3 separate regions of the Homo sapiens genome follow, and all the other regions are reported to be linked to region 3. The links are microRNA targets in miRTarBase. Many come from high-throughput screens and were not tested one by one. Region 3 holds a microRNA gene; each other region holds the end of a gene's coding sequence.
The links. The annotated mature microRNA hsa-miR-218-5p reads UUGUGCUUGAUCUAACCAUGU and lies in region 3 at 1,785-1,805, opposite strand. An mRNA with a match to its seed (bases 2 to 7 or 8) in the 3' UTR can be bound and repressed. Matches are read on the target gene's strand: a 7mer-m8 pairs with bases 2 to 8, a 7mer-A1 pairs with bases 2 to 7 and ends in A, and an 8mer does both.

Region 1: miRTarBase lists CHST5 as a target of hsa-miR-218-5p. The part of its 3' UTR that is shown has no 7-base or 8-base seed match.
Region 2: the mRNA of ZXDC is a reported target of hsa-miR-218-5p. The part of its 3' UTR that is shown has no 7-base or 8-base seed match.

What each region holds. Positions count from the first base shown.
Region 1 is chr16:75,526,510-75,529,576 of GRCh38, reverse strand. It overlaps CHST5 (carbohydrate sulfotransferase 5), which reads left to right. Exons shown (of 4, transcript NM_024533.5): 4 at 1-1,047. The coding sequence ends at 428. Among named protein-coding and RNA genes, the nearest start is that of CHST5, 8.1 kb to the left of the region's middle.
Region 2 is chr3:126,435,877-126,438,943 of GRCh38, forward strand. ZXDC (ZXD family zinc finger C) reads right to left here. Exons shown (of 10, transcript NM_025112.5): 10 at 1,725-2,585. The coding sequence ends at 2,499. It overlaps CFAP100 (cilia and flagella associated protein 100), which reads left to right. Exons shown (of 17, transcript NM_182628.3): 17 at 415-680. The coding sequence ends at 528. Among named protein-coding and RNA genes, the nearest start is that of ZXDC, 38 kb to the right of the region's middle.
Region 3 is chr4:20,527,037-20,530,103 of GRCh38, reverse strand. It overlaps MIR218-1 (microRNA 218-1), which reads right to left and starts at 1,829; the gene lies at 1,720-1,829. SLIT2 (slit guidance ligand 2) reads right to left here. Exons shown (of 37, transcript NM_004787.4): 16 at 1,005-1,155.

The DNA of each region.
Region 1 (3,067 bases), not on the chromosome of region 3:
GCCACGTGCGCATCGCCGAGGCCGCCACACTCAAGCCGCCACCCTTCCTGCGCGGCCGCTACCGCCTGGTGCGCTTCGAGGACCTGGCGCGGGAGCCGCTGGCAGAGATCCGCGCACTCTACGCCTTCACCGGCCTGACCCTCACGCCACAGCTCGAGGCCTGGATCCACAACATCACCCACGGGTCGGGGATCGGCAAGCCAATCGAGGCCTTCCATACTTCGTCTAGGAATGCGCGCAACGTCTCCCAGGCCTGGCGCCACGCGTTGCCCTTCACTAAGATCCTGCGCGTGCAGGAGGTGTGCGCCGGCGCGCTGCAGCTGCTGGGCTACCGGCCTGTGTACTCTGCGGACCAGCAGCGTGACCTCACCCTGGATCTGGTGCTGCCACGAGGCCCAGACCACTTCAGCTGGGCATCGCCTGACTGAGAACTCTGGGCCTTAGAGCAGGCCCCGAACTGTGGTCGCCAGGCCCAGGAGGCGACTGCATGGTGGAGAGGGAGCTGGGGCGCATGGGGAAGCAGGTCCCTACTATCAACCGGGAGTTTGGGGTCCTCCCCTGAAGTAGGCAAGGACTGCACGTTTCTTTCTCTCCTGATTCTCGGTTTTCCTTTGAGTCTTCTGGAGCTGCCTTCTCATCAGGTGCACTCTTCATGGAAAGCAACTCTTGCCCCTACCTCTTCTGGGCGCAGGGAGTAAGTTACTGCTAAATTAAATTAAATGTGTGCCAGGCCGGGTGCGGTGGCTCATGCCTGTAATCCCAGCATTTTGAGAGGCTGAGGCGGGTGGATCACCTGAGGTCAGGAGTTCGAAACCAGCCTGGCCAACATAGTGAAACCCCCTCTCTACTAAAAATGCAAAAATTAGTCCGGCGTGGTGGCACACTCCTGTAATCCCAGCTACTTAGGAGGCTGAGGTGGGAGAATCACTTGGACTCCAGAGGTGGAGGTTGCAGTAAGCTGAGATCATGCCACTGCACCCTAGCTTGGGTGGCAGAGCAAGACTCTATCAAAAAAATAAGTAATAAATTTGTTCAAAAGTCCTGCAATCTAGTGAACTGTAACCTCATTTTTTCTCTCTTTTTTCTTTAATTGCATGATTCCATTTATTTAAAGCAGAAAAACTAGTCTATGGTGATAGAGGTCAGAATAGGGGATACTTTGTAGGGAGGATTTGACTGGGATGTAACCTTATTTATTATGTAAACAAACTACAACTTGACCAGGCAGTATATTCTTGTAAGAAGAAAGGAGTCTTCTCCAATCATAGCAGCCAGCCTTCAGCCAGGGGCAGACTGCAGACTGACCAGATGTGTCCAAATTAGACAAAGGTTGAGCTGTAACCAATCAGCCTATATCCAATGCCACTTCCTTTTTCTGTTTATAAACGCTGCTTGCCCACTGTTGCTGGGTGGAGGTCTCTGAAACCTCTCTAATGTAGATCTCTCATTTAATGGGGAGGGTTTGGCCTTTAATCACCATCATCCCTGAACAAAGACTGACCAATTGGACTCAAATGCTATTGAACTATCTTTATTGCATGGACTTTGAGTTATTTGATTTTGACTAGTTGTTTGTTGAAACTCCTGATAAGGAGTGTACTTCAGTTTCTTGGCATTGTCCACTCATAGCCATCATAATAGTCTCCCTGGTCGGGCACAGTGACTCACGCCTGTAATCCCAGCACTTTAGGAGGCCAAGGCAGGCAGATCGCTTGAGCTCAGAAGTTCGAGACCAGCCTGGCCAACATAGTGAAACCCTGTCTCTGTTAAAGATACAAAAAATAGCCAGTGTGGTTGTGCATGCCTGTAATCCCAGCTACTCAGGAGGTTGAGGCAGGAGAATCTCTTGAATCCAGGAGGTGGAGGTTGCAGTGAGCCAAGATTGCACCACTGCACTCCAGCCAGGGTGACAGAGCAAGACTCCATCTTAAATAACAATAATAGGCCAGGCACAGTGGCTCAAGCCTGTAATCCCGGCACTTTGGAAGGCCAAGGCGGGTGGATCACTTGAGGTCAGGAGTTCAAGACCAGTCTAGCCAACATGGTGAAACCCTGTCTCTACTAAAATACAAAAATTAGCCAGTGTGGTTGTGCATGCCTGTAATCCCAGCCACTCAAGAGGTTGAGGCAGGAGAATCGCTTGAACCTGGGAGGTGGAGGTTGCAGTGAGCCAAGATTGCGCCACTGTACTCCAGCCTGGGTAACAGAGCGAGACTCCCTCTCAAAAATAATAATAATAATAAAATAATAATAATAATAGTCTCTCTGATGTGTTGACTCCCCTGGGAAGTCTTACATACTCCTATGCAGCCATTCTTTATAAATCAACTGGTCTGTTAGGGTTAGAGTAACAAAAACATGAAGAAAGCATAAAGAATCATTCAACTAAGGTGAAATTGTGAAGTCAATACTGAAACAAAACAAGTCCATTATGATGGTGACAGGAAATGGAGTCAGGGCCCAAGGTTTTGGTCAATCTCTCAAAATTGAGAGGCTGACCAAAAGGCAGAAATGTTTAAATTCAATTAAATTTGGCCCAAAGTTCCCAGCACTTTGGGAGGCCAAGGTGGGCGGATCATGAGGTCAGGAGATCGAGACCATCTTGGCCAACATGGTGAAACCCCATCTCTACTAAAATACAAAAAATTAGCCGGGCATGGTGGCACATGCCTATAATCCCAGCTACTCGGGAGGCTGAGGCAGAGGAATCACTAGAACCCAGGAGGCAGAGGTTGCAGTGAGCTGAGATCGTGCACTGCACTCCAGCCTGGTGACAGAGCAAGACTCCGTCTCCAAAAAAAAAAAAAGAGAATTTGGCCCAAAGCTGCTGCCATACCTGTTGAACTGCAACCTAACTTAATATTTAAGTAAACTGCCTCCCAACTGAGACTATATTCTTGTAACAAATAGTTGAATCTCAGCAAGTCACAGCAGCTGTGCTTTAACCAGTCACAGGCTGCCAACTGATCAGACCAAGTCCATATAAGGCAAATGCTGAGCTGTACCCCATCAGACTGTTTCTCTGTGTTACTTCCAAAAAATTCGGCCTGCCAGTGTTTCTGGGTGG
Region 2 (3,067 bases), not on the chromosome of region 3:
TTCAGCCATGCCCACCCACCCCAGCCAGGTACACTCTGCTCAGGAGCAGGGTCCCACCACCCTACCCACACTCCGGCCAGACCCCAAGCCCTGCTCACTGCCCGTCACTGGGGTCCCCCTACTGCTGTGTCCCAAGGCCCCCACCCTTCCTGCCTTCTGACCCTGGCAACAGGAAGCAGGTCCCTCTGCCCCCACATCTAATAGGTGGTGCTCCAGAGACCAGGCTTGATAAATGCCAGGCAGACTCACACCCCCAGTTATTTCAGAGTTAACTCCAGCCCTCAGCCTGCAGGGCTGACCAGAGTGGCCTGGAGGTGACTGGAGCTGCTGGGCCTCTCCCTGCACCAGGGGCAGGGGTATATGGGCATACGGCTCACTAGGCAGCAAGGCTCACTGGGCTTGTTTCCCCTGCAGAGAGGCAGGACACTGGTATGCCGCTCACGACCCCCAGCCCACAGGATCAAACAACAGTCTGAGCACACACTGATGGACAAGGAGGAGGAGGAGCTGCTATTTTTCTTTACTTAATCTTCGCAGACCATAGCTGTTCTGGCTGAAGGCTTAGCAAAGATGTTGGCAGAGGAAGCAGAGACTGGGCTGGGTCTCGAGTGGCCCAACTGAGTCCTCTCTGTCTCCTGTGTGCTCCCTTCCTCACCTGAATAAATTCATGTCTCTCTGGAGTCTTGAAGGCCTGCTTAAGGATGCAGCCACCATTGCCAAATCTCAGCACCCCGCCGGTTCATCATTTAACCCTAAGCAGATGCTTGAGGGCAAGAGCATGACACCTTGGTTCCCATCTAAAACAGCTGCTCTGCGAGACAAAAGCTAATTCCACGCTGAGTGTAGTGTGAGATCAGCCTCTGTGCAAAGACCAAAGAAATACAAGCAGGCAGCTAGGTATATGGCAGGGCCAGCACTACCAACTAAAGGAGAAACAATGGGCTGAATGCCATATATGTAGCTACTTGAATTAAGCCAAGGTGAAAAACCTTCGGTGCATGACTATAAGAAAACTTTCATTCATTTGCACTAGGAGTTAGGCCCATCACCGGCAGGGAACCTTGGTGCCCAGAACACTGGGTGCCAGTCCCAGTCACTTCACGGTGACGTTCCCAGGGAGGCACATGGGAGAAAAATAGAGGCCGAGAGGGCATTCCTGGGGGAAGACTCTCCTCCCCATGGAGATGGGGTGGGTGCGGCTCCACCCGCCATGGTGGCCAAAAGCCTCCCATGGAGGGAGGAGGACTCCGGGCCACCTTGGGGCTAAAGAGCCTGCCAGGTGGGCAAGTTCTCCCCTCGCCTTTAGTTGGTGACAGAGCGCCGGTCTGTGGAGAAGACCCATTTGTCGACGAGGTGTGGATTCTTCCACGTGGAACAGCACCTGGGGACAGCACCTCAGAGTGAGACAAGACAGAGGGAGGACTCACTCAAACTTGATGTCACCCCCAAATTCAAGAAACAAACACAGGGCAGAGTTTGAATGATTCAGTCTGAGAATCAAAACAGCCTCTGAATGAACACATACTTCAAAAGGCACAAGGCAAAAAAAAAAAAAAAAGTCATTTAGGAGTGACCCTGTGTCATTGCTAAGTTGACAGACTTACAAATAAACATGGGCAAGGTGATCACCTTGTCTCCTTTTACAAGACAGACCTCACTCGGTAAAAATATACACTGACGTATTATGTGCACATCAACCTCAATAATAAAACATACACGCGCCATCACAGTCCTACACATAATTTATGGTATTCAGAACATCACTTTATAAACTGTTGCCAAATTACCACTTAAACACTAATATCCAAATACAGAATTTAGAAAATTATTTTAAATTTTAACTCTACCATCCCCCCGAGCTCTCGGCTATGAATTTAGTCTGGGAAGAGGGCTCCGTAATAGGCCACTGAGGTCCTCTGTCCCACCACATCATCCTCCCCCGAAAACTAGCTGCCCGACTGCTCTACCAGACTTGGGCTAGAATTTGGCTTCACGGTGGCAATGGGACCACCTGGGCCCTACAGTGTGGCAAAATCAACTTGCCCACAAACCCCATCCCAGGTGCTGGGATGCTAACACACTGAAGCTGAAAGACCACACTTGGTTTTGCCACAGATCAAGCTGCATCTGACTAGACAGCCTGTTCTCTACCCTATTTCCTGCAGAAGTCTTTTTCTTTGTAATGCAACAAGTGCTACACAGCTCAGATCCAACGGGACACGGGGAAAGAGGCTGTAGTGCACCTAGCCCTGCTGAGGGAGACCCTTGCCTTGCCAAAGCACTTTGCTCACAAAGGCAGTTTCAAAGAGTATAGCCCGAACTCATTCCTGGTAAAACAAAAGGAAAACATTTTTGATAAATGTACCCAAAAGTCTCAAAAGGGCTACGCTGGTCTTCTGAACGGAAACCAAATGAGGTCTCCCCAGGCTCATGTCATGAGTCTCAGGGAAGGTGTGTCCTAGACCGTGGCCTTGGGCCTGCCCAGGCCGAGGCTGCCGTCACTGCAGATCCTGCAGGTTGATAGTGCTTCCTGGGAACTGGGTGGCCTCCGGTCCAGCAGGGCCTCCAGATGAGGGGAGCACCTCCTGCAAAACCAAGCATTGTCATGAAGAGGGAGGAGGGAGGGGAGGCAGAGGGATCCTGTGGCTCCACACAGCAGGACACTGACCAGGCCCGTGGTGAGATACCTGACTTCTCTTACTCAAAACTACAGGCTCCCCTTATTCTAAACACATGTTCTTTGATGAAAAATGAACTCAATACTGTACTGTAAATTTTTCAAGATTGTTCTGTCTGCACATTGACGTATACCCTCACATGTTCATATACCCATATGCCTTTTTACAGAAACAAAATCATCTTTACTTCTGCAACCCTTTCTCCGCACTTCTCACGCGGTGAGCACTCTCCCAGGTATTAGGTGTCCGTCCGCCTGTGCCCTCACAGCTGACCAGGATGTGGCCCAGGGCTATGGAGGCCCCATCTAGCCTGTCTCCTCCTGCTACAAGAAGTGTTCCTGCTGTTGCACCATTTGACTCCGGGCTACGGTGATTATGTCACTACCTTA
Region 3 (3,067 bases):
AAAAATCACTATAACTACAAGATAGTGGGTTTCTGTCAACTCTTTGAAAGGCATTACTTTATTTTTAGTTATTCAAATTGCTAAAAATTAATTAAGTACAGGCATGAGTATAGGCACAGTGAGAGATAAACAATAACACACAATCCCTGTCATCAAGGAGCTATAATCTAGTTAAAGATGGAAGGATTATATACAAACAAACAGACAACGAACTTTGCAAAGCAGTAAATGACAAATACCAGATGGTGCTATATATAAACATGGCTAAGATGTTTAGAGAATGATGAGGTTTTGCTAGTTTTTTCCCTGAATTGTTAGAACACTAACATTAAAGGTCCTCTTCTTATAAATAAAGTCAGTAAAGGCAAACCATGCATGGGCATAGAATCTGTAAGTGCTCCAACAAACACCTTAGCACTTAGTATGTGCAAGGTCCTATGTTAAGGCTGTTAAGTGTAAATACCATCATATTCTGCCTTTTCAGCTTTTCTTGCATTGTTCAGAAAAAGCTATCCTTTCTACTTTAATACTTGATAACCACTGAATCCTTCTGCCCGTAAGTCAATGAAGTAGTAAATTAGGTAAGACAGACTCCTTGAATCTATTGATAGTTTACAGAGATTGAAAATGGAGGCTCTCAAACTACTTTATTTAGTTGCTATAAGAATTAAATACGTTAAAAACTAAGTACTTAGAAAACAAATTGGGAATAAATAATACCCAATAAATAAGCATCAAATAAATACCATTGTTATTAGTATGAAGTGCTTACTGAATTTTGAGAGATAAATTAGTTTCTGTACTTAATCGTATGGTTGGCTAGAAAGATGAATGAAGGTAGCCTCTAATATATTCTTGTACAAAATAGAGTTATGCCAATGTAATGCATATTAATTAAAATTAATGCAATTATTAATAATAAAAATGGCAAGACAAACATTCTTATGCTTTAATGCTTTCATTCCCTCCATCCCAACCAGAATTTTGTTGGGGGATGAACTTACAACTCTGCAGTGTACTGGGGAATGTGCTCCGGGATTTTGTTGAGCTTTTGATTAGAGCAATCTACTGTGGTTCCTTCACAGCGACACTTTTCAGGGCAAGCCAGATCCGCAAAGCAGTCTCCACTTAATTTTGATCGATAATCTTCTGTACCTATTGAGAATTCAAACCAAAAAAAAGATACTGAGTCTAAAGGTTAGAAAATTTATTAGTTTGTAGGAAGAAAAAAGTAAGATAACTATAGATTATGTAGCAGGGAGACAACTTGGGGTATTTTGGTCAATGGATGTCAGGAGAAAGGTTAAAAGAAAGGCTTGGAATTTTCTGGAAAAAAGAGTGACCAGATTCACATGACAGGAAAACATTAATAAAGTTGAGCTTTTCACAGCTGTACTTTCTGCTGATCCAATTCTGAGTCATTCTAGCCTACTTCACAGCTAGTCACACAATGGATATTAATTATTAAAAAGTTTATTTTTTTTCTCGGAGTCAAGAATTGAAAATATATCCAGTAATAAACATGATCCTATATCTCATTGTAAATTAGGGCTTTCAAGGCAAATAGATATACTCAGGCTTTTAAATTTTCTATGGACTTTTTACTATTCTCTCCCTCTCACATAATCTCGGAGATGCCTAAAAAGCCCTCTTTTTTCATTTTGATTTTGTAGAAAGAGACAGGAAAATCCTGATTTAAGCCTCAGCAGCTTGTCATGCTGTAGAAAGCTGCGTGACGTTCCATGGTGCTTGACGGAACCATGTTTTACTCATACCTCGCAACCACATGGTTAGATCAAGCACAACAGAAAATCTCGCTACATTATCACTACACCAACCACTAGGCCAAAGGTAAGACCAAGAGGAAAATGGAGGGAAGGAGGAGAAAAGCTACAGACGTTCTGGAAACGTAATACTGTTTACATGACATGCATTCTTCCCGCAGAATGTTTATGACCACAGTAAGAGTATTACTACCGATGATTTCCTGGAAACACAAAGAAGGGGCTATATGGAAAAGGTGCCTCCACCATTCCTCAGAACTGCAGAATGGAAACAACAGCTTTCGGGAACAACATCCAGGAAGAAGTTGAAGGTGAGCTACAAGGACAACAGAGAAGCTCAAAAGATCTGTGGTTTCTTCTTGAAAAAAAGGTGCCAAAGACCAAGACTAGAAGAAGGTACATCAGGATTGAAAAGGGAGGGTATTATGTTTCAGATCAGACACTTTTACTTACAGCCAAAATGGTGAATTCCTGCAAAAGTAAAGATCACCAAGAAGGAAAGAAAGAGTAATCCCAATTAAGATTAATATACATATTTATAAAACTAAGCTCTCTTCCTTCTTTCTTTATTATGGGAATTATTGAAAAAATAGCATGATGTGATGGGAATTGTCATGCTTTGTAAAATTTTATAAATAATATTTTGAAGCACGGTGGTCTCACAAGAAAACCAATGTAATAAAAGATGCATAGTGCAAATTAAGTTCTTGATTCCTTTAAAAGATGAACTCTCAAGGCCGGGTGTGGTGGCTCACGCCTGTAATACTAGCACTTCGGGAGGCCAAGGCGGGCGGATCACAAGGTCAGGAAGTCAAGACCATTTCACCTGACGGGTGAAAACCCATCTCCAGTAAAAATACAAAAAATTAGCTGGGCATGGTTGCGGGCGCCTGTAGTCCCAGCTACTCGGTGAGGCTGAGGCAGGAGAATGGCATGAACTCGGGAGGCGGAACTTGCAGTGAGCCGAGATCATGCCACTGCACTCCAGCCTGGGAGACAGCGAGACTCCATCTCCAAAAAAAAAAAGATGAACTCTCTGCAAGACAGATTTTCTTTTATCACTGTAATATGTAGAGTGCCATATAAAATGGTAGTAGCGAGGTACACACGTAAAAGTGAATGAAAAACTAATCATGGAGATCCTCAAGGACAATCATTACAACATTTGGATTAATCCTTATGTTGTGATGTACACTTTTTAATGAACTTTTCAACTTATAAATAATGTGTCTTAGTGGAAATGGAATCAGAATCTCATAAGAAGTTTGCGATGGTAAATATAA